3 linked regions of the Homo sapiens genome follow. The protein of the gene in region 3 purifies or fractionates together with the protein of the main gene of each other region. This does not show direct contact. Each region holds a gene or a part of one and is shown on either strand. Other genes may lie near its edges. The genes, in order: TSPYL6, ALDH3A2 and HEATR1.

Region 1 (6,959 bases), on a different chromosome or scaffold from region 3:
CACAATAGTTTCCAGTCTTCCGCATCAGATAAGACCAAGTTATTCAAATTAAAATGTTAAAGATACGGTTTTAACAGAAACAAGAACAGGCTGAAAACTGCCATGAATATCCATATCCACATAATGTACAAAAAAGAAAGACTGATATTATTCCAAATATTTCTATTTGAAAGTAAAAGAAAATCTGTACAGCTGAATCTTCCCAGTAAACAGAAAGAGAAAATATTATAACACAGTATTAATCTTCCACATAAGTAAGGCCATATGCAAACAAGAAAGAGAACACCCAAAATTGCAGTGTTTCTTCAAAGAACCCTTCTCTAGGGAACATATTTAACACTCCAACCATCTTCTATTCTTCTACGTGCATACTAAAAAAAAGTACTTCTCTTCCCATCATAACTAGTCAACCCAGTGTAAATTCTAGGCCCGATTTTCCCCTGAATCATTTCTGCCTTTTTGTTCAGTTTTCCCTGCCTAGAGCACCCATCACAATCTCTTTAGTTCTTCTATCCACTCTGAACTAGAAATCACCTTTCATTCCATACAGCTCTGTAGTCCTTTAAACCCTCTAGGAATTGCTAAAGAGGGGTGAGGGGCTGAGAAGAAAGGAGAATGGGCAATAAGAGGTCTGGCAGTCTATTTTACAGAACAGCCTGCCTCTGGACATGACAAAGAGAGCCAAGAAACTAAAAAGCCTGCTTCTGCGGATGTTTCTGAACTACTACTTTTGTTTTTTTTAAAGGAAGACAGAAGAGATTTATGAGAGATGAGAGAAAAGAAAGTGTACACTCACTCTGGCACTTCATTAGGTTCAGGAAGGGAGGCAAATAAAGGTACCTAGATTTTGAATGAATCCACTGGTTGTGGCTGAGAAAGCCTGGTACTTGTCAAGAACACCAACATATTAACCTTGCCATGAGGATAGGGTCTGACATGTCCCCTCAACCACCTGTCTAACAAACAGTAGGGTTTCTGAGTGATGAGGGTGGTGGTGGTAAAGAGAGGTCTTTTGGAAGAGGAACAGGTCTTTTGTGTGCTGACAGGAAAGCTGTGTCCACCACCAGTGTTCTGGAGATCCCTGTTTATTAGAAACCAGAGAGTGGAGCTGGCAATGGTCTGGGATATGTTCACTCAGCAGGGAGCTGCCCAAGTAGCAGTACTTGGGAATAGCCAGTAGCAGGCAGCAATAGGTGACCAGTCTCAGGAAAAGTAATGGGGTCCCATAATTCACACAGACCAACTTGCCCCCTGCTGTTCTCCCTTGACTTCATTAATGCCCAGCAATTGTCCACAGGCCATGCACCTGTACTGTCAGATGCAGAGCAGGGTGAGCTGAATAGGTTCTTAGACACAGCTAGAAATCCAAGTAGGAGGAGCCAGACCAGAGGTCCTGGGAACAAACCGAGTCCAAACAAAGGTAAATACAGTGTAACCTACAGCATCATTCGCTTCGCTTAGAAGGATGTGACCCATCGGCTGGGAGCATGTGATGTTAATGCAGAATAGCAAGACGACCAGGTGAAAGGGGAGCAGCACAGCCACCAAGGTCTCAATCTTCAGGTTGAGAGAACGGAAAGTTTAAACAGAGGGTACAGGAAAGTCAGAACAAAAAAAGTAAAGGGCATACCTAATGCTGTTGCCCAAGCTCAGGTCCAGCTGGTGGTGGCAGGCAACCTTCTGCAGGAGTAATTCCAAAGGCAAAGGTTAACCACACTGGAACCCAAAGGGCCTGGGGATCTCCACTGGCTCCCTTACCAGGCGACGTCTAGCTCTATGGGCGTCTTCACCCAACAGGTAGTACTGCAGTGGATTTGACCAGAGGTCCTCTTTAATAATCTGAGCAATCCTGTCGGACTCTGGAAGGCTGTGGTCTGAAAACCAGGTGAAGAAGCTGCAGATGACATGTCGGTTCCTATGAATGAAGGACTGGGGTCCATGGCCCCGGCGCCACATGATTAGAGTGGAAAAAGACACCACTTGGCCGAAGGATCTGACCTCATACACCTTTACAATCAGCTTGTTTCTGAAGTAAGGGTTTCTTTGAAAGAAGAACTTAAACTTGCAGCCTGTCCTAGGGTGTCTGAGCTCCTTCACTTCCAAATTGGTTAAGTAGCTTAACATCTCGGCATCTTGGCCTCTAATCATGGCAGACAGCTGTGGGTGGTGGCGGAAAGCAGTGACCCAGAAGCCCGGGATATTGCGAATGATGTCATTCCTCTGCTCCAGGTAGTATTCATGAATCTGCCCAAACCTGCGCTCCACCTGCAGGAGCGCCCTGTCAGCCTCTGCATTCACGGAGTCCAGTTCCAGCTGGATGGACTCCAGGGGGTTCAGGTGGAGACCCACGTTCAGGGGCCCGGGCCCGGGCCCAGGCCCTGCCTCCCTGTTTACCTCATCTATTGCTCTGTTTTCTTCCGCCACGTCCATTTCTTCGCCTCCTGGCTTCTCATCCACTGGGGCTGAGAACATGGCACACTCCTCAGGCTTCACGTCCTCGGCCTTCCCCTCTGCAATCACTTCAGACTCCGACCTCCCTGCCCCACAGGTTTCTAGAGCCTTCTCCCCACCTAGGCCGTGCGTCTCTTCACCCGGAAAGCCATTTTTGAGGCTGCCGTCAGTTGTCAGCGAGGCAGAGGCCGCTTCTAGGCCCTCCGCGGGTGGTGGAGTCACTTCCTGCCCCGCTTTGATGGCTCCATGACTGCGACCCGCATCGACCAAGATGTGGAAAGTATGGCCACCATCTGCGGGATCCTGGGGCGCGACCCCCTCCTCTGGAAGCCGGGGCGGTGGGAACACGATTGGCTCCAAGCGGCCATCAAACATATCTGCCATTACCTCTGTCGCCTTGCTCTTTTCTCGGGACCTCTGGCCCTGGTGCGGGTCTTCCAGAGCATAGTCGAGAGTAGCGGGGCTGTGAGGACTCTCCGGGAGGCTCATGTTGGTAGCGGCCAGGGCAGCAGTGGGTAGAGGCCAGGCCAGAGGTAGGTAGCGTCAACGTTCCTCACACAAAATGGCGAGTAAACACCTCGCCCATTTGCGCCGCCCACTCTTCAGTCTCGCGACACCCACCCCTCAGTCTCGCGACACTCACTCCTCAGTCTCGCGAGTCTGTGGTGGTGTCTTTACGTCTTTGTTATTTTAGCCATCGTGCTGGATGAGTAATGATATTACATGGTGGTTTTAATTTGCATTTAGCCAAAGTCTAATGAGCTGAGAACCTTCTCATGTGTTTGTTGGCCACTAGGATATTCTCTCTTGTGCAGTATCCGAGGCTTCTCCCTATTTCTCTACTGGGCTGACGTTATTTTTCATATGGATTTGTAGGAAGCCTTTGTACATGCTAGATACTAGTCAGTCATTCTTCCAGTATAGGTATTACAAATATTTCTCTTCCAGTATAGGTATTACAAATATTTCCTCCCACTCTGTGGGGTTACTTTTCTTTTGGACTCGTAGTTTCGCTGTCGCCGAGGCTGGAGTACAATGGCATGATCTCAGCTCACTGAAGCTGCCGCCTCCCAAGTTCAAGCGATTCTCCTGCTTCAGCCTCCCAAGTAGCCGGGATTACAGGCGCCCACCACCATGCCCGGTTTTTTTGTTTGTTTGTTTTGTTTTGTTTTGTTTTGTATTTTTAGTCAAGACATGGTTTTGCCATGTTGGCCAGGCTGGTCTGAACTCCTGGCCTCAGGTGATCCGCCCATCTTGGCCTCCCAAAGTGCTGGGATTACAGGCATGAGCAACCGTACCTGGCCTACTTTTTCACCATCTTAATGGTACCTTTTGAAGAACAAAAGTTTTTCATCTTAATATGTGCCAATTTGTCATTTTCCCCTTTACCTTAGTGTTTTTCTGCTCTGTTTAAGAAATCTTACCTCTCACCTGGGCACAGTGCCTCACACCTGTAATCCTAGCACTTTGAGAGGCGGAGACGGGAGGATCAGTTGAGCCTAGGAGTTGGAGACCAGCCTGGGCAACACAGCAAGACCCCATCTCTATTTTTAAAAAGAAGAAAAAAAGAGGAATCTTATCTCACCAAGATTGTTCAAATTTATATATGCCATCCATCTGGAATTGATTTTTATGAGTGGGGTCACAATTTCTTTTTTTCCATATGAATATCTAATTGACCCAGCACTGTTTATTGAAAAGACAATTCTTTCCCCATGCATAGGTTTTTAAATGTTTCTGTCAGAAGTGACATAAATCATTGGCTACAGCTAGTCAGTTGGCCTTGTCTAACTTTAATAGGACAGGGAGGTGTAATCTTCTCTTGAGCCTGGAAGGAGGAAACTGGAAATATTGGCAAGTGCTGTATCACTCATCATGAAAAATAATTTGAGAAATATATAAAAGACCAATAGAATTAGGCCAAAGGACATAGAGAAAAGGTAATAATAAACAGGAGAAATTTATGTAAGACAATACAGAGCATTAACCAAAGATTAATAATAAAAGGAGAGAGAAAATAAGCAATATTTGGAGAGAAAATTATAGTCACATTGATGGTTTAAATAAATATAAGACAGGATGTTAGACAGCTTTATGCCAATACATTTTCAAACTTAGATGAAATATATGGCTTCATAGAAATGTATAACTTATCAACACGGACTGAAATGCAATAGAAAATCTAAATAGACCTAGAGACAATAAACAAATGGAATCAGTAGCTTAAAAAAATGTTTCCACAAAAATAGCATGAGGTTCAAATGATTTTGAGGCGACTGCTACCAAACCTTCAAGGAACACATAATCCATTTTTATATTTATTAAACATTCAACAAATATTTATTAAACATTCAACAAATGTTTATTGGGTACCTACTGTGTGCCTGGTACTCTTATAGGCCCTCTGGATATAACGGTGAACAGACCAAAGATTTCTTCCCTCTTGGGGTTTACATTTTAGCAGGGGAGAAAGATAATAACAAGAAACCAATATTGCACATTAGAAAGTTATAAGTGCTATGGAAAAAACAATAGAGCAAGGAGATTGAAAGTCCTGGGGGTAGGGAGTGGGGAGGAGATTGTAGTATGAAATAGGGTGGTCAGAGGAAGCCTCATTGAAAATATGAGATTTTGGCAAAGAGTCAAAGAAGTTGAGGGAGTCAGCTAGTAGAAATCCTGGAGGAGAGCATTTCAGCACGAGAAGTGCTAAGCAGAGGCACTAAGACAGGAGCATGTCTGGAATGTTCAAGAAATAACAAGGAGGCCAGCGTGACTGGAGCACAGTGAATGAGGGAGGCTAGATCAAGTAGGGTCTTGTATGATAGTGTAAGAAATTTGGCTTTTATTCTTAGTGAAATGGGAAATTACTACAGGATTTTGAGCAGAGGACACAAAATCTGACTTAAGTTTTGCGTGAATCACTCTGGCTCCTGGGTGAAAAATAATCTGTATGGTGGCAATGGTAGATTTAGGGGGATCTTTTGGGAGGCTACTGCAGTAACCCAGGTGAAAGATGTTTCTCAGACCAGGTGGCAGCAATGGAGGTGGATGGTGGACATAGTATGATGGTAGAGTCAGCCTGATTTAATGGTAAATTGGCTATGGGATCTCTTAGTTCATTTTCTGTTGCTGTAACTGAATACCTGAGACTGGGTAATTTATAAAGAAAAGCTTATTTAACTCACAATTCTGGATGCTGAGAAGTCCAATATGCTGTGCTATGAAGTAGCATGACAAAAAAGCAGAAGAGCAAGCAAGCACCTGGGAAAGAATGGACAAGAGAGGCTGACTTGCATTATAGCAACCCACTCTCTCAAAAACTAATCCATTCCCATGAGAAGTTATCCAGCCTTGCAAGAAAAACATAAATCCATCTTAACAACCTGATCACCTCTTAAAGGCCCCACCTCCCAGCATGGGGTGTAAGAGAAAGAGAGAAGTCAAGGATGACTCCAATGATTTTGACATGAGCAACTGGTAGGATGGAGTTACTGGAAGCAGAGATGGTGAAGGTTATAATGAGGAAGATCTTTGCAGGAAAATCAGAGTTGTCTCTCTTTTTTAACATATTGTTTGAGATGATTATTGGACACCAGAGTTGAGATGCCAAGTGGGCATAATGAGTTTAGAGCTCAGGAGAGGTCTGAGATAGTTATTCACATTTTGGGATAATCAGCATGCATGGAATTTAAAGTCAAAGGGTTGGATGAGAACACTAAGATAGTGAGTCCTGATAAGCTGGGCCCTGAAGACTCCAAAAGTATAAGGTCAAGAAAAAGAGGAAAAACAGCAAGGAAGACTGAAGAGAGACCAGCAGGGTAGGAAGGAAACCAAGAGAGTGCAATGTGCTTGAAGCCAAATGTGTAAAGGAAGGTGTTCAGCTGTGTCACAGGGTGCTCACATGTCAGTTAGTATGAGGTCTGAGAATTGACCGTCGGATTTTACAACAAAGAGTCACTGGTGACTCAAAAAGAGCACTTTCAGTGGAGTGGTGGGGGTTGAAATATGTTTGAAAGGGAAAGGGAGAAAAGAAATGGAGATTGAATATTGACAATTCTTTTGAGGAATTTTTCTCCAAAAAGAAACAAAGAAATGGGATCATGACAAGAGTAGTCAAGCTACTTTCAGTGGAGTGGTGGGATAATAGCTTGGCTGGAATAAGTTTAAGAGAAAACAGGAAGCGAAAAAGTGAAAACAGCGAGTATATACAACTGTTTTGAGAAGTTTTGTTTCAAAGAAATGGGATGATAGCTGGTGGGGAAATGGATCAAAGAACGTGTTTTTAAAATGGGAGATGAAGCATGTGTAAAGAAGCAGGTTGATGTGAATGATCCAGTAGGGAGCATAAAACTAATGATGTAAGAGACAGAAGGAAGCATTATTGGAGGGATGTCCTGGAATAGACAAGAGGAGGTGGAATCTAGTACCTAAGTGGAGAAGGAGATGTCAGCTTTAGGAGCATGGCAAGTTCACTAGTGGTAACTGGCAGGAAGTCAAAGTGTGAGGTG
Region 2 (7,112 bases), on a different chromosome or scaffold from region 3:
AGTGGCTTTTCTGGTTGGGTTTTTGTTATGAGAATGTTTACATATCGGCTATTTTGTAATAGCTCTAGTAGAGAGTAGAAAAGCCCACCTAGCCTAGGTCCCAAAGGAGAAATAAAAAGCTGAGTCAGTCATCTCACATGTGGGAGAGGCAGGCAGGTCATGTTCTAAAGGGAAAAGCAAGGATCAGGCTATGTCCACAAAGCTTCACTTGGAATGAATTTCTTTCTGCCCATCCTCTCTAGAACAGGGGGAGTCCCGTTTTACTCAAATCACAAAACAATTCAAGGAGAGGCTGCTCCTCCCAACAAAGGGCTGGGGAACAATGCAGGTAAGAACTGAGCAGAAAACAAAGGCACATTAGAAAACCCCTCTACCTTCTGTCCCTGGTATTCCGAACCTTTCATTTGCTACTTCATTAAACACACACACCACACACACACACACACACACACACACACACACGAAGAGAGATCTTCTTAATTAATTTGAGACCTGATTCTTGGTTCCCAAATCTCCTAAATGTGGCAGGATAACAAAATCAACGAAGTGAACAAAGCTGTGGTCAGTCAGTGCTGCTGACAGAAAGAGAGTGACAAGACATTTGCCCTATGCTGGAGGGGTGGGTGGGGAAGCAGGAAAACCAGTCAACTGGGTGACCAGGAAAAGGTCTCCCTCAGGAGAGGACAATCAGGGTACGCAACAGCTGGCTATTTCAGCAGCCCATACAATCCACTCATGAAATGGTGGTGCTTTTGAAATATCTACTACAAGCAGGAGAAAATAAGACTCACCCACTCCTCCAAATGGGAAAGAGTTGAGCGTGAAGTGCATAATGACGTCATTGCCTGTGACACCTCCACTGGATGTCTCATCAATCATCCGTTTGATGAGCTGAGGACAGACCAAAGGTGTCCAGGTCAGTGAAGTTGCCCCTTAGGGAACACTCATGGCCCCACCACACAGAGGGCTGTGTGCTCAGTTATGTGCTCAAAGCATGCACATTCTGGCTTTGTGTCAGTGAAAATTCTCGAGTTTGGGGACACCATGCCAGATAGACAAACAATCTCAACTGGTTAATTTAGCAAAGTGACTGATACCCAACTTCTCAGACACACATCTAGTGCACAAAAGGAGGCAGCTCCAAACCTCTGGGCCTACTCAGCCACAACCTGGAGTTGTACTCCCCAACACAGCAGCAAAAGACTCTTTAAAAGGGGACAGCTTAGACTATATTCCAGCTTTAAAAACTGTTATTATTTCTTTCTTATCTCTGCTTTAAATTATAACACATGATTAATAGGTATTATTTAGTCTTTATGAAATGTAAAAATATTTAAGACTTTAGATTTAGCATCCTATTTTTTAAGAAATAAATGGTTGTTTGGCCTAAGGCTCAGAAAAGCACAAGAACACTTGACTAGTAAACGTCATTTACCCTTGGGTGCCAGCAAGCCCTTGACAATTGTTCATGGCAAACGTCAAGTCTGGACTATAGTGACCTCGGGTGACCCACTGCTGGGAAGTGCTCCACACCTGACTTATACCCTGGCCAGCCTACTTTCGGCTTCAGGGTTCCTTCCTGCCCACATTATCCATGGTTTTAAATGTCAAACCATTGTTTTGTTAATAACCCAGTCTTTACTGAGCCCCACACATTTGGTCTCACTTCAAATACCTGTAGCTATCTGTATCTCAATAGTCTCACAAGCTCCAAAAGCTGTCACATGACTATCTATACATTACCATCAGAAGCTCTCCAGAAAACATTTGGGCCATGGTCTCTTAGTAGCGGCTGGTCACCTAGTGACATGAATGAGTGAGCCATGCAGAAAGTGGCAGAACTGCTCAACCAGGTGATGCAGTTCCACCACTCTAACAAGAAGCTAGCGTCATGTTAGAAACTAAAATCCATCATATCACAACCATTTATGTGACAGTGTCGGGGTCTTTGTCCCACACAGTGGGTGTGAATGCCATTTTGTGCAGGCTGTTATTCAGCAATGCCCTGTGGATTAACATCAGAAAAGCATTTAATGCTGGCACATATAAGTCTTCCAATTATACAGGAGATGTTTGTGAATCAAAAACCTTGTGACACTCAACCCTGCAGACTCAGATCTAACCCGAGGGAGGAGGGGAATGGATGCTGTGATAACCCCAGAGTCTCATTAACCAAGACAGCAACCTCGGAACACAACCTCACTTAGTGGATGGACTCTGACATGACACAAAAGAAACCATCATTGTTTCACATTGTTTTTTGCATTGTTTTACAGCAAAGAAGGAACATGACTCTTGACAGTTGCTTATGCTAACTAGCTGTTCTCTCTAAAGCTTACCTTATGGTTATGCGAAAATACATAAAGAGCCAGAGGCTTTTCACGTTCATTTATGAAATTTATGGCCTCATCTACATTTTTCACAGGCACTATTGGAAGAATTGGTCCAAAAATTTCTTCTTGCATCACCTTGGTTTTAGGATCAACATCGGTAAGTACTGTTGGGGCTAAAAAGAAAATAAACAAAATGAAAATGCTTATTAGACAAAAATGCACAACTCTCATATTACATCTCTTTCATTGGGTCACTTATCCATGCCTTTCCCTCTCCCACCCAAGTCATATCTATTGAAAAATCCTGAGCACGTGGATGAACTGTGCACATACTCAATGTCTCCAAAGCCTGTGAATCACAACCCTGCGGATACTTGTGCAAACCAAGGGAACGATACACACTCAAATATATCTTTTTCACATTGAACCCTGTTCACAGCCATGCATGTATTTAACTGTAGATTATACTTAACATTTTTCTGTGGACAGGTTTTTTTTTTGAGATGGAGTTTCGCCCTTGTTGCCCAGGCTGGAGTGCAATGGTGCCATCTCGGCTCACTGCAACCTCCGCCTCTGGAGTTCAAGTGATTCTCCTGTCTCAGCCTCCCGAGTAGCTGGGATTACAGGCATGCACCACCACGCCCGGCTAGTTTTGTATTTTTAGTAGAGATGAGGTTTCTCCATGTTGGGTCAGGCTGGTCTCGAATGGACAGGTCTTTCTAGGAGCAAAGACAGCTCCTCTGTGAATCAAATCAATACTATTTTTCTTAACTCGAGTGCTTTCATATATATGATCTCATTAACCTTTATTATAACTCTGTTAGACAGATTAAGAAAACAGACTTAAATGGTCAAAATTCCCTAAACCTTAGTCCACTGTTCCATCTACCATGGGGAAGAGGCACAAGAAAGGAGGGTGAAACAGATGCTGGGGAGGCTAGACAAAGTGTCCCAGCATCTGCTGCCAATGTAAGTCACCAACTAGCAGTACTCCAAAAGATGCTGTAAGTAAGAAACTGGCTCGTCAACCAAAAGAGAAGTCATCTGACAATAACAAGTTGGCACTTTTCCTTTACCCCCAGTTTCTAATAGGTTATCTTGGCAATGTGGCTGGGGACAGCTTCTTGCAGCACCACTTCCAGGGGGTATATAAACTGCCACTCCAAATCCATTGCCCACATCTTCCTCAGGTCAGAGAAACAATTTGGGCTGAGTGTCTACTTCCTCTGCATAGCCATGCTCAGGTAAGATGATCCCAGCTCGAAGTCAGGGGAAAGTCCTAATTAGTCTATAAGCTAATCAGGATAGCCCCTTCCTCTTACCATTCATTAGCCTAGAAATAGGCAATGTGGACATGCTGAGGATGGGAGAACAGAGAGGTGAAACAAGTAGAGTCTGTTTTCTCTTTTTTCTACAGATGTATTCCCCAATTCAATCTGGGCTGCCACCAAGAGAGATAGAAGGCACAAGGATTGTTTTCTTTTGCATCCTAGTACAAAGAATCAGGGTTTTTTGATGGTACCACGGGGCCACTGAATTATCTAGCTCAGGAGAACCTCGGGACTGCTAATTATAAGAGAATCAATTCTGCTTATTATTTCATTTTTAAGTTTTTTTTTTTAAAGTTGATTTTTTTTTTTTTGGTGACTTATAGCATCTTATCTGATAAAGGGGATAAGTAAAGCTAGGTGGTGCAGCTTCTTTGCCAGCAAAATGTGTCTAATTTTTCTGTCACCTTATATGTTACTGTAGAAAAATGTGCTTAACATTCAAAGTAATACATATTCAAGGCAAAGAAGAAAAAGCACAAAGAAGGTACACAAATAATAAGGTCAAGCATGATGGACCAAAACATTATTTCTGGAATGGTACCGTCACTGGTTAATTGTGGAATAGTGGCCAAGCTATTTCCTTCTTTGTGCTGTTTTCCCATCCACAAACTACAGATAATTACATCAAGTTCTATTCTGCTTCTCAGGATTGTTAGGAGGAAAAAAGGAGTTATGTGTAAATATGAACAACTGGAGCAACGCTGGTGGCATCATTCAATACACAGAAACACAGACATTTTAAATAGTTTATAACAAAAGCTACAGGTACAGTATACCAGAAAGCAGGATTTAGTACTTTAACAATTAAATGCTATATATTTAATAGTTTATCTAGTGTTAATAAGTAGTGTCAGCAAAAACTGCCAAATTGCCATCTTCCCATAGGAAAAGGAGAATTTCCATTACCTATGTAGCGTGTGGCCTCATCAGTCTCCCCACCAAAAGCTATCTTTTGTCCTTCAAGCAAACTTAGTATCCTCTTAAAATGACGAAGATTGATGATCCTTTCATAATCAGGAGACTCTTTTATATTTTCTCCATAAAATTCCTATTTAAAACAACAGGAGTATATAAATGTCACAAAGACCCACAATTCAATTTCAGTAAGTACAAAATCCAGCCATGCCCCAAAATCAATCTGGTTTTATATCCTCACAGAATCTAACACCCCACCCCTCAAGTAATTTAACAGTAGTATGATAGTAGCAAGTTTCAGCTTTTTGGCAGGTCGAGGACCAGAAAATAAAGCATGCACACACACAGAGATCTGTCATTGTCCATAGTTCCAAAGGTTCTTATGGATCTCTTAGAGTCCACCCACAGGCCTTCACCTCCTGGGGCTGACAGTGGGAGCAGGCTGGGGAAAGAAGTCTTGCTCTGCATCAGAGTTGCCTATTTGTTAGCACATTGGCTGTGCCTGCTTTCCCCCTACAGTAAGTTCGGTAGTTACAGCAGAGACCCTAACATCTGCAAAGCCTGAAATATTTACCATCTAGCCCTTTACAGAAACCATTTGCCAATCTTTGCTCCACTTTGTTGTTTTGGTCTTCTTTGAACTGGTATTTCCACCACTTACACATGATGGTGAAACCACCCGAAGGATCAAAATACAGCTTTGGTAAATTACCAAGGTAAAAGAACGTCAATAATCATACAATCAATATTTACTTAGTAAAACAAACAAAATTACTGAATTGCTGCATCACTTCAAAGCCTTGTGAGAGTTCCCAATTTCATCCCAAATCAAAATGAACATTGTTCATCCAACCTCTACCAAGAGCAATTCTCAAGTCTGGGTGGTCGGAATCACTGGTGCAGCTTGCTAAAATGCATGTGCCTGGGCTCTGACTCGAGAGTCACCAACAGTAGTTTTCAATGCTGAATGCATCATAGAATCACCTGGAGGCCTCAGACGAGCTGAATCTTTGGAGGGTAAGGCTTGCAAACTTGTTTTTAAATGGCTCACTAGGGTAACATGTAGCTTGAGAACCACTGTGTTAAGAGTATAAATGCCTCAAAGGGAGGCAGAGGCCCTTATTCCTTTGAAATTGAATTCATCACCACACTCAACTAAGCATTCTCCAATTCCCAAATATTTTCAATCTCACAAGTATCTTTAACCACTCTCTCTTCCCACATACCCTGAATCTGGGCAACTCTCCCTTCATGTGCTCATCTGGATCCATTTTTAGTCCTATGACTAAAAATGATAGTCCAATTTCCATGTCAAGACCCTAGCACCTCATCCCCCAAGTTACTCTGCCTGGAACACATAGTGAACTATTGTCCTGAACTTCCTGGTACATAATTTTCTCTTTTTTTTTTTTTTTTGAGACAGGGTCTCACTCTGTCACCCAGGCTGGAGTCCAGTGGCACATTCTTGGCTCACTGCAGCCTCCGCCTCCCAGGAGGATCAAGCGATCCTCCTACCTCAGCCTGCCAAGTAGCTGGGACCACACGTACACGCCGGTACACCTGAATTTTTGTATTTCTTGTAGCGACAAGATTTTGCTACGTTGCCCAGCTGGTCTTGAATTCCTGGCCTCAAGTGATCTGTCTGCCTTGGCCTTCCAAAGTGCTGGGATTACAGGAGTGAGCCACTGTGCCCAGCCAATTTTCTCTTTTTTTGTTTTTTTGAGACAGAGTCTTATGCTGTCACTCAGGCTGGAGCACAGTGATGCAATAATGGCTCATTGCAGCCTTGAACTCCTGGGCTCAAGTGATCCTTCTGGCTTCAGCCTCCTGAGTAGCTGGGACTACAGGCATGTGCCACCATACCCAGCTAACCTTTTTTTCTTTTGTAGACACAGGGTCTCATTATGTTGACCAGGCTGGTTTTGAACTCCTGGGCTCAAGCGATCTTCCCACCTTAGCCTCCCAAAGTGCTCGGATTACAGGAGTGAACCACCACAACGGCGACAATTTTCATATCTTTTTTTCTTTTGAGATAAAATCTCATTCCGTTACCCAGGCTGGAGTGCAGTAGCATGATCTTGGCTCACTGCAAGCTCCACCTCCCGGGTTCAAGCAATTCTTGTGCCTCAGCCTCCCAAGTAGCTAGAATTATAGGTGCGTGCCACCATGCCCGGCTAATTTTTGTAATTTTAGTAGAGATGGGTTTTGCCATGTTGGCCAAACTGGTCTCTAACTCCTCACCTCAAGTGATCAACCTGTCTTGGCCTCCCAAAGTGCTGGGATTACAGGCGTGAGCCACCATGTCTGGCCAACAATTTTCATTTTCAGATCACATGCATTACTCTTTGGTGTTTTTGATCCTTCCTTTTAGTGCTCAATTAACATCTGTCGAGTAAACAGTGACTGCTCCAATAATTTCTTTCATCTGAGGGGTTAATGATCCTCACCCACTGCTGAACTCAGTCACACTGGTCATTTGGTCATCCCATTCTTCTTTTTTTTTTTTTTTTTAAAGACAGAGTCTTGCTCTGTC
Region 3 (7,112 bases):
TGATGGTGCCAATCAACTATCTCTGAAAAGAGGTTAAACTTTTATCTCAGTACCCACCCCCTTACTGAACCAAAAGCTGTCATCTATTTCAGATTTATAATAAACATATGAATCTGATCTTAGCCCTTGCTTTCAAAGACTGGGACATTACTCATTACCTTCAGAATAGGAAGAATACATTTTCATTTTGCTAGTCACTTTTCTAAAATGCATGTTCAAACCAAGATTTGGTTACAAAAACCTCATTTTTCAGTAGACTGACATAAGTTTAGAGAAGTCTTTCTTAGTATTCTCCAAGTAGCAACAGAACCAAATGTTTCTTCCTAGCCTTTCTGTATTTATTAAAAGACATAATGCAAATAATCACTTTCTAATTATTATTATTATTTTTGAGATAGGGTCTCACTCTGTCGCCCAGGCTGAACTGCAGTGGCACAAACACAGTTCCCTGTAGCCTCGAACTCCCTGGACTCAGGTGATCCTCCCACCTCAGTCTCCCGAGCAGCTGGGACCACAGTTGCATGTCACCATGCCCGGTTAATTTTTGTATATTTTTGTAGAGACGGGGTTTTGCCATGATCTGCCCATCTCAGTTTCTCAAAGTGCTAGAATTATAGGTTTGAGCCACCTGGCCCTCTAATTATTACTTTTTGCTTTTTGCTTTGTTTCATAATTTGGATTTTTATGTATAAAAATTTTCTTGGTCTTATATTTTTAATTACTCTAGGGAAAAAACTTTTTTGGCAACTGGATGAGATATTCATTATAAATGAATCACTAAAGTTCATTAAATACCTAAATGAGAAGGCAAAGGTTTACTCAGTAATAAATTTTAAAAGTATTCCAGTCTTTTTCATGTAGAGACTATTTAAGTATTTAAGAACACAGATCTTAAAAAAAGTAAAATTCTAAGAAATTACTCAATTAACAATGATCTTTCTTCAACCAACCTGCTCCCCACCCCAGATGTTTCTCACTTAAGAAATAGACAAGTTACACAAGAACAACTGGAAAACAGAAATTTTAAATATTTTGAAGCTGTTAACCAGGATATGGTTACTATTTTAAGATCAAATCTTAGAAAATTTCTGGACAAAAAATATAAAACCACACACCTGTAACATGATGAATGATGGAGACGACCAGATGGGGAAGCATGTAATGCAGAAGAGGACTGACATCGTAAGTTTCAGAAATCCCATGAAGTATTGTAATAAGATCAGGAACATTACATAAGTGAGGGAATGGCCTTTGAAGAAGCAAAAGTACATATCGTGTTGACTTTACAAGTTAGACAATGAGTAACAATATAAGAAAATATATAATCACTTATCTTACAAAAAAAAATTATTCAAAATAATTTTATTCACCTCTGACTAGCACCATTTCTCAATTCAATTGTACATACTTTTTCCCAAGGCTCTCTGGCTTCTGTCTCTGCAGGAGCACTATCAAGCAACTTAACCCATCCTTGATCAAAGAGGGAATCTTGGTCAATGTTTTGATGATCTGTGATGCCAATGAATTCACAAAGGTATTTTCCATGGTCACTTTCACAGAAATCTGACATATTATCATGTATGTTGCAGCTCTGTAATCTGGTAAAGATGATTTCAATCCCTAAATATTTTTTAAATATAAGGAAAAATGATAAACCATATTATTTTCTGCTACTTTAAATGTTAATCTGACAAATTAGAAATGTCATAGAGATTAATACAACCTAATGCATAGTCAATCACTCTTCAGACATAAACAATAAAGGAGCTGACCCCTTTTTCAGAGTGGATACAGAGATGAGACAAGTCTGTTGAACGAGACAAAGGATCTCAGAAAATTTCCCAACTCAAACATCTACCACATGTCCTGACAGGAGCCAGTAAGCTCTTCTTTTATACATAAAATCCTACTTATAGTAGGGAGACCTCAATCAGATCACTAATGGAAGAAACAAGTCTGATGAAAGGTCACAAGTTGGGACACTGGTGGGAAGTGAAAGCAGTACCTCCACAGGGCACCTGGGAAGGCAGCAGGCAAGAAGGCACTTGGGAAGGAGAAACGCTGAGAGGCAGGAGCCAGTGCACAAAGAATACTGAGAGGTTGCTTACGCCTCAAAGAGACTGTCTGCTCCGTCCTCCTTCCAGTGAGGTACAAAGACTGCTATGGAAATCAATCTAGGAGATGGCCGCAGGACCAGACAGCCAATATTTATTCTTAAGAGTCCTAATTAAGGTCCCAGGCCAGTGAGTTTCTAATAAAAAAGTGTCATATTTTCAACCTAAAGGCTAAATCTCAGCTATCATCTGAAATAAACTGTCAATTTAAAAACACTTAAATCTAAAAAAACTTTCGAAAGCAAGAAAATTCCTTTAAGTACAAAATAATCTACTTAACACATCAGCAGTGCCAACCTTTTGGATATAGGGAAATAGTTTGGCGATGATATTGTCTGATACGTCCTCTGCAGCTACCAGCGCCGACACTATGGTAGAAGCATAGAAAGCCAAGAGCACCCTCAACTGAGCTGAGCTGCCCGGGTACTCAGCAAAAACCTGAAACAAGGAACACAAACAAAACACATTTAACAGTGAAAGGGAGGTAGAAGGATTGCTTGAGGCCAGGAGTTCAAGGCTGAGATTTCAATGAACTATGATGGCACCACTGTACTCTAGCCTGGGCGACAAAGCAAGTCCATGTCTCCAAAAAAAAAAAAAGTGAAAGGCCAAATAAATATTTACAGCTCTCCTGAATTACCATATGCAACAATGAATACACAATGTGACAACAATTAACTGCCTAATGATATTCCTAACATTTTTATTTAAAAAAAAATTTTTTTTTTTTTTTTTTGAGATGGAGTCTCTGTCGCCCAGGTTGCAGTACAGTGGCATGATCTTGGGTCACTGCAACCTCCGCCTCCCAGGTTCAAGCGATTTTCCTGCCTCAGCCTCCCGAGCAGCTGGAATTACAGGCATGCCCCACCATGCCCAGTTTATTTTCGTATTTTTAGTAGAGACGGTGTTTCACCATGTTGGCCAGGCTGGTCTCAAACTCCTGACTTCAAGTGATCCGCCTGCCTTGGCCTCCCAAAGTGTTGGGATTACAGGCGTGAGCCACCGCACCTGGCCTTAAAATTTTTTAAACAGCTTTCCCAGGTTGAATATTCCCGACATTTCTAGACACTCTCTTTGAATAGTCACTGTAACTAGAATCTGGCAAGGAATAGACATTTATTTTTGTAGAAAAACACCTTTGGTGATAAAAGACTGATTCTTAAAAAAAAAAAAAAAGATACGGACTCTCAAACTGCTCCTGCTTCAAAACACCAGACCATTTAACAAAATAAATTTATCCAAAGTATCATTGTTATTAGGGAATGTTTTAGTATGTTTTCTTCATTCAAAGCAAGCAATCTTTTCATAAAATTATATACTCATGAAACAGACTGCTCACCTTCACAGATTTTGTCACCAAACTGCAAATGAAATCCATGAATCCAAGATCTTTGTAGCAGTGGGTAATCAAAGTTCCTTTAGCTAACGGCACTCCAGATTGCTGTTATTGATGGAAAGAACAAACTACTAGCAACATTCATCAACTGATCCTTATTTTAAAGCATTTACCCTAGTAATGTCTTCATACTGCTACAATTCATAAATAAAAAATATAATCTCTCCTTATAACTGGTGGTGGTGATGAAATTAACACATAAAATCATGTAAACTTAGAAATTCAAAAGAGAAGGTCAGCAATGAGGGCAGAGGTATTTAGTGAAAGATGTTTGCTTATCGTATGTCACATTTTGAAAGGTATTTATCAAAATCTGGATTCTCTAGATTCTTAGTAACTTTACTGGTTCGATTTGGTTTCTGAGCCACTATGATACGCTTCTGTCATTGCTTTACAATAACACTAAGAACAGAAATAGACTAGGAAACTGCACAACTTATACCACTATTCCCACCATCTAGCGTTGTACATGGTATGTAATAGATGCTCCATAAATACTGATTAAATAAATGAAAGGAGAATTTTAAGTGAACTTTAGTAGGTGAGTGGAGTTTGGCTACCTGCAATAAGAGTGCCTAGGGAGCAGCAAGATCCAAGGTAGATTAGAGGAAGAATAATTTTGATGCTATGGGCAGAGTGAATGTTGGGAAGAGCAGTTAATGAGCTTTATCAAAGGCTGGCCTTCTCCAACATTCTTTAGTTCAAGTGCTTTACGTTCAGATTCTTAAATTCTCCTTCTAATTAAAAAGTCCTCATTACTCCTATCTTACTAATTCTGAACACTGACCCCACTACCATCATCAGCCTAATGTGCACAGCCTCGTGATCTGTTAGCTTACCTTCATCCCCATTTGCCTCCCCCCCTACCCTGGATCACCATGCCCAACATGCAGTCAAGTTCCTGCTAACAACATACATCTACTTTCCTCCACCATATGTTGCAAACAAAGTGCTAACGGTTAGTCAGTTGGTTTTCCTACAATAGCATGCTGTCTTTTCTTACCCAGACCCTTCCTGTTATACAAGCATCCTTTTCTTAGTCTGTAAATTAACTCCTAGCATCTTCCTCACAACTTTAGTAAATTCTTGAAACCCCTGAAGTTATCCTTATCCTTTTAATTTTTGTAAGTATTTTCTGCCTTTCTTCACCTTCAACTTTTTTTTAAGTTCTCAGTTCCAAATTTAAAATGCCAAACGGCATGGTACGATACAAAGGCACAGACTCTGGAATCAGATTTGGGTTCAAATCTCAACTCTGCCACTTTATAGTTATGTGAACTTTGGCAAGTAGCCTGTCCTCATCTGTAAAAATGAAGTTTTGTGATAATCCAAGATAATATAATGTACATTGCCTAGCCTGATGTCAGATACTAAATAAAAGCTAAATATTATTAACATTAATAATAGTTTCAATTGGAAGTCAGGAAATAAAAATGATGGAGGTAGTTATCTGGACTATCCCCAGGAGCAATGACTTATTTTTTCCTAATTAAATCCCTTAATCAAGATCTGTAATGATTACAGACATATGTCATTCAGCAATTATACCTTAACTGGCAACAACCAGAACCATCTGTGCTTTGAATTATTAATTTTTAGAAGCTGTATGACTCGCACAAATATTCTTGTCTCGTGGTATGGCAGAACACAAGCAATGAGGCTATCTTGATTATAGAGATGTATATGGAACCTGGGGAAAAAAAGCAAACAGTCCAACTGAACACAAAACTTAATAATAAGCACCTATTTCCTCACATGCCCAAACTGTATTATTAATAAGCTAAAACAACCTAGAACGAGTAGCAGTAAAAATCACAAAATTATAAGATACAGAGCATTTAAAAAGTCCCCAATTTTGCATTCACATATCCCTCAACATGGTCCAGCCAATTCCTATGCAATATCTTTGAATATTCTACATCAAAATATACATCCCATTAACTTTCTCTCAGCTTTACAATTTTTATTTAATTTTTTGAATAGAGTCTTGCTCTGCCACTCAGGCTGGAGTGCAGTGGCACGATCACGGGTCACTGCAGCCTCAACCTCCCAGGCTCAAATGATCCTCCCACCTAGGTCTCCTGAGTAGCTGGGACCACAGGGGAGCACCATCACAGCTGGCTAATTTTTTATTTCTGTGTAGAGACTAGGTCTCCCTGTGTTGCCCAGGCTGGTCTGTCAACATTTTTTTTTTTTTTTTTTTTTTTTTTTTTGAGAGGGAGTCTTGCTGTTGCCCAGGCTGGAGTGCAGTGGCACAATCTCGGCTCACTGCAACCTCCACCTCCAAGTTTAAAAGATTCTCCTGCCTCCGCCTCCCAAGTAGCTGGGACTACAAACTCATACCACCATGCCCAGCTAATTTTTTTTTTTTACTTTAGTAGAGATGGGGTTTCACCATGTTGCCCAGGCTGGTCTCCAACTCCTGAGCTCAGGCAATCTACCTGCCTCAGCCTCCCAAAGTGCTAGGACTACAGGTGTGAGCCACCATGCCTGGCTAAGATGTTTTTTCTAATTCTGCCAACTGATCCCTCTTCTGTGAAAACTCTCCTATCCTTTTACATCGTGTACTTTTTTTAAACAGTACCATACATTGCCTTTTATTAGATTTTTTTTTTTTTCCAGAGTCTACTTGGTCACCCAGGCTGGAGTGCAGTGGTGTGATCTCAGCTCACTGCAACCTTCGCCTCCCAAGTTCAAGCGATTCTCATGCCCTAGCCTCCCAAGTAGCTGGAATTACAGGTGCACAGCACCACACCCAGCTAATTTTTTTTTGTATTTCTAGTAGAGACAGGGATTCACCATGTTGGTCAGGCTCGTCTCAAACTCCTGATCTCAAGTGACTGGCCTGCCTCAGCCTCTCAAAGTGCTGGGATTACAGGCGTGAGCCACTGAACCCAGCCTCTTAGTTTGACATACGGTTTTAGCGGTTACTTTTTCCATGAAGCTTTCTTCAACTATTCCAGGCAGAACTATATCCACAAAACTCTGCTTAATCCTTTATTATGGCATTTATTTCAAAACAGTAATCAACGGCAACCTACTTATCTATGTACTGAACTTAGTATTTGCTGAATAAATAAGTTATCTGAAGACATAAAATGAAAAATCAAATGCAAAAAGTATTCCTTACATTAATGATCTATTTGGGGGTAAAGTTAGGTGCTAGAAAACAGATGGAAATATTACAGACTTTTAAATATTCTTTGTCTGATTGCCCTAATGTTCTGACAATCAGAAGACCCAAGTTAAAATCATGTTTTCTTGATGACTCACTTGCTTCTTGAAAAAAAATTAGTTTATCCCCACGTCTCCATTTTTTGTTTTTTTTTTTTGATACGGCGTCTCCCTGTTACCCAGGCTGGAGTGCAGTGGCGTGATCTCAGCTCACTGCAAAATCTGTCTCCTGGATTCAAGCAATTCTCCTGCCTCAGCCTCCCAAGTAGCTAGAATTACAAGTGCTCGCCACTGCGCCCAGCTAATTTTTGTATTTTTCACACAGACAGGTTTTACCATGCTGGCCAGGCTGGCCTTGAAGCCATGTCTCCAATTAATGGAATAGAAATCTACTTTTAAAACATGTAAGTTGGACTGGATGTGGTGGC

The links.
Region 1: the proteins of HEATR1 (region 3) and TSPYL6 purify together in Homo sapiens (affinity purification with mass spectrometry; 2 studies listed by BioGRID and IntAct, with this or other methods). This does not show direct contact.
Region 2: the proteins of HEATR1 (region 3) and ALDH3A2 purify together in Homo sapiens (affinity purification with mass spectrometry; 2 studies listed by BioGRID and IntAct, with this or other methods). This does not show direct contact.

The regions. Positions count from the first base shown.
Region 1 is NC_000002.12:54,253,212-54,260,170, forward strand, and holds the start of TSPYL6 (testis-specific Y-encoded-like protein 6), read right to left. Parts: upstream 3,019-6,959; 5' UTR 2,941-3,018; coding exon 1,708-2,940; 3' UTR 1-1,707.
Region 2 is NC_000017.11:19,658,727-19,665,838, reverse strand, and holds part of ALDH3A2 (aldehyde dehydrogenase family 3 member A2), read right to left. Parts: intron 4,713-7,112; coding exon 4,571-4,712; intron 3,840-4,570; exon of another isoform or gene 3,749-3,839; intron 2,507-3,748; coding exon 2,340-2,506; intron 892-2,339; coding exon 792-891; intron 1-791.
Region 3 is NC_000001.11:236,594,425-236,601,536, forward strand, and holds part of HEATR1 (HEAT repeat-containing protein 1), read right to left. Parts: intron 5,201-7,112; coding exon 5,059-5,200; intron 3,556-5,058; coding exon 3,454-3,555; intron 2,553-3,453; coding exon 2,412-2,552; intron 1,621-2,411; coding exon 1,409-1,620; intron 1,250-1,408; coding exon 1,116-1,249; intron 1-1,115. UniProt on the Homo sapiens protein: Ribosome biogenesis factor; required for recruitment of Myc to nucleoli. Involved in nucleolar processing of pre-18S ribosomal RNA. Required for optimal pre-ribosomal RNA transcription by RNA polymerase I.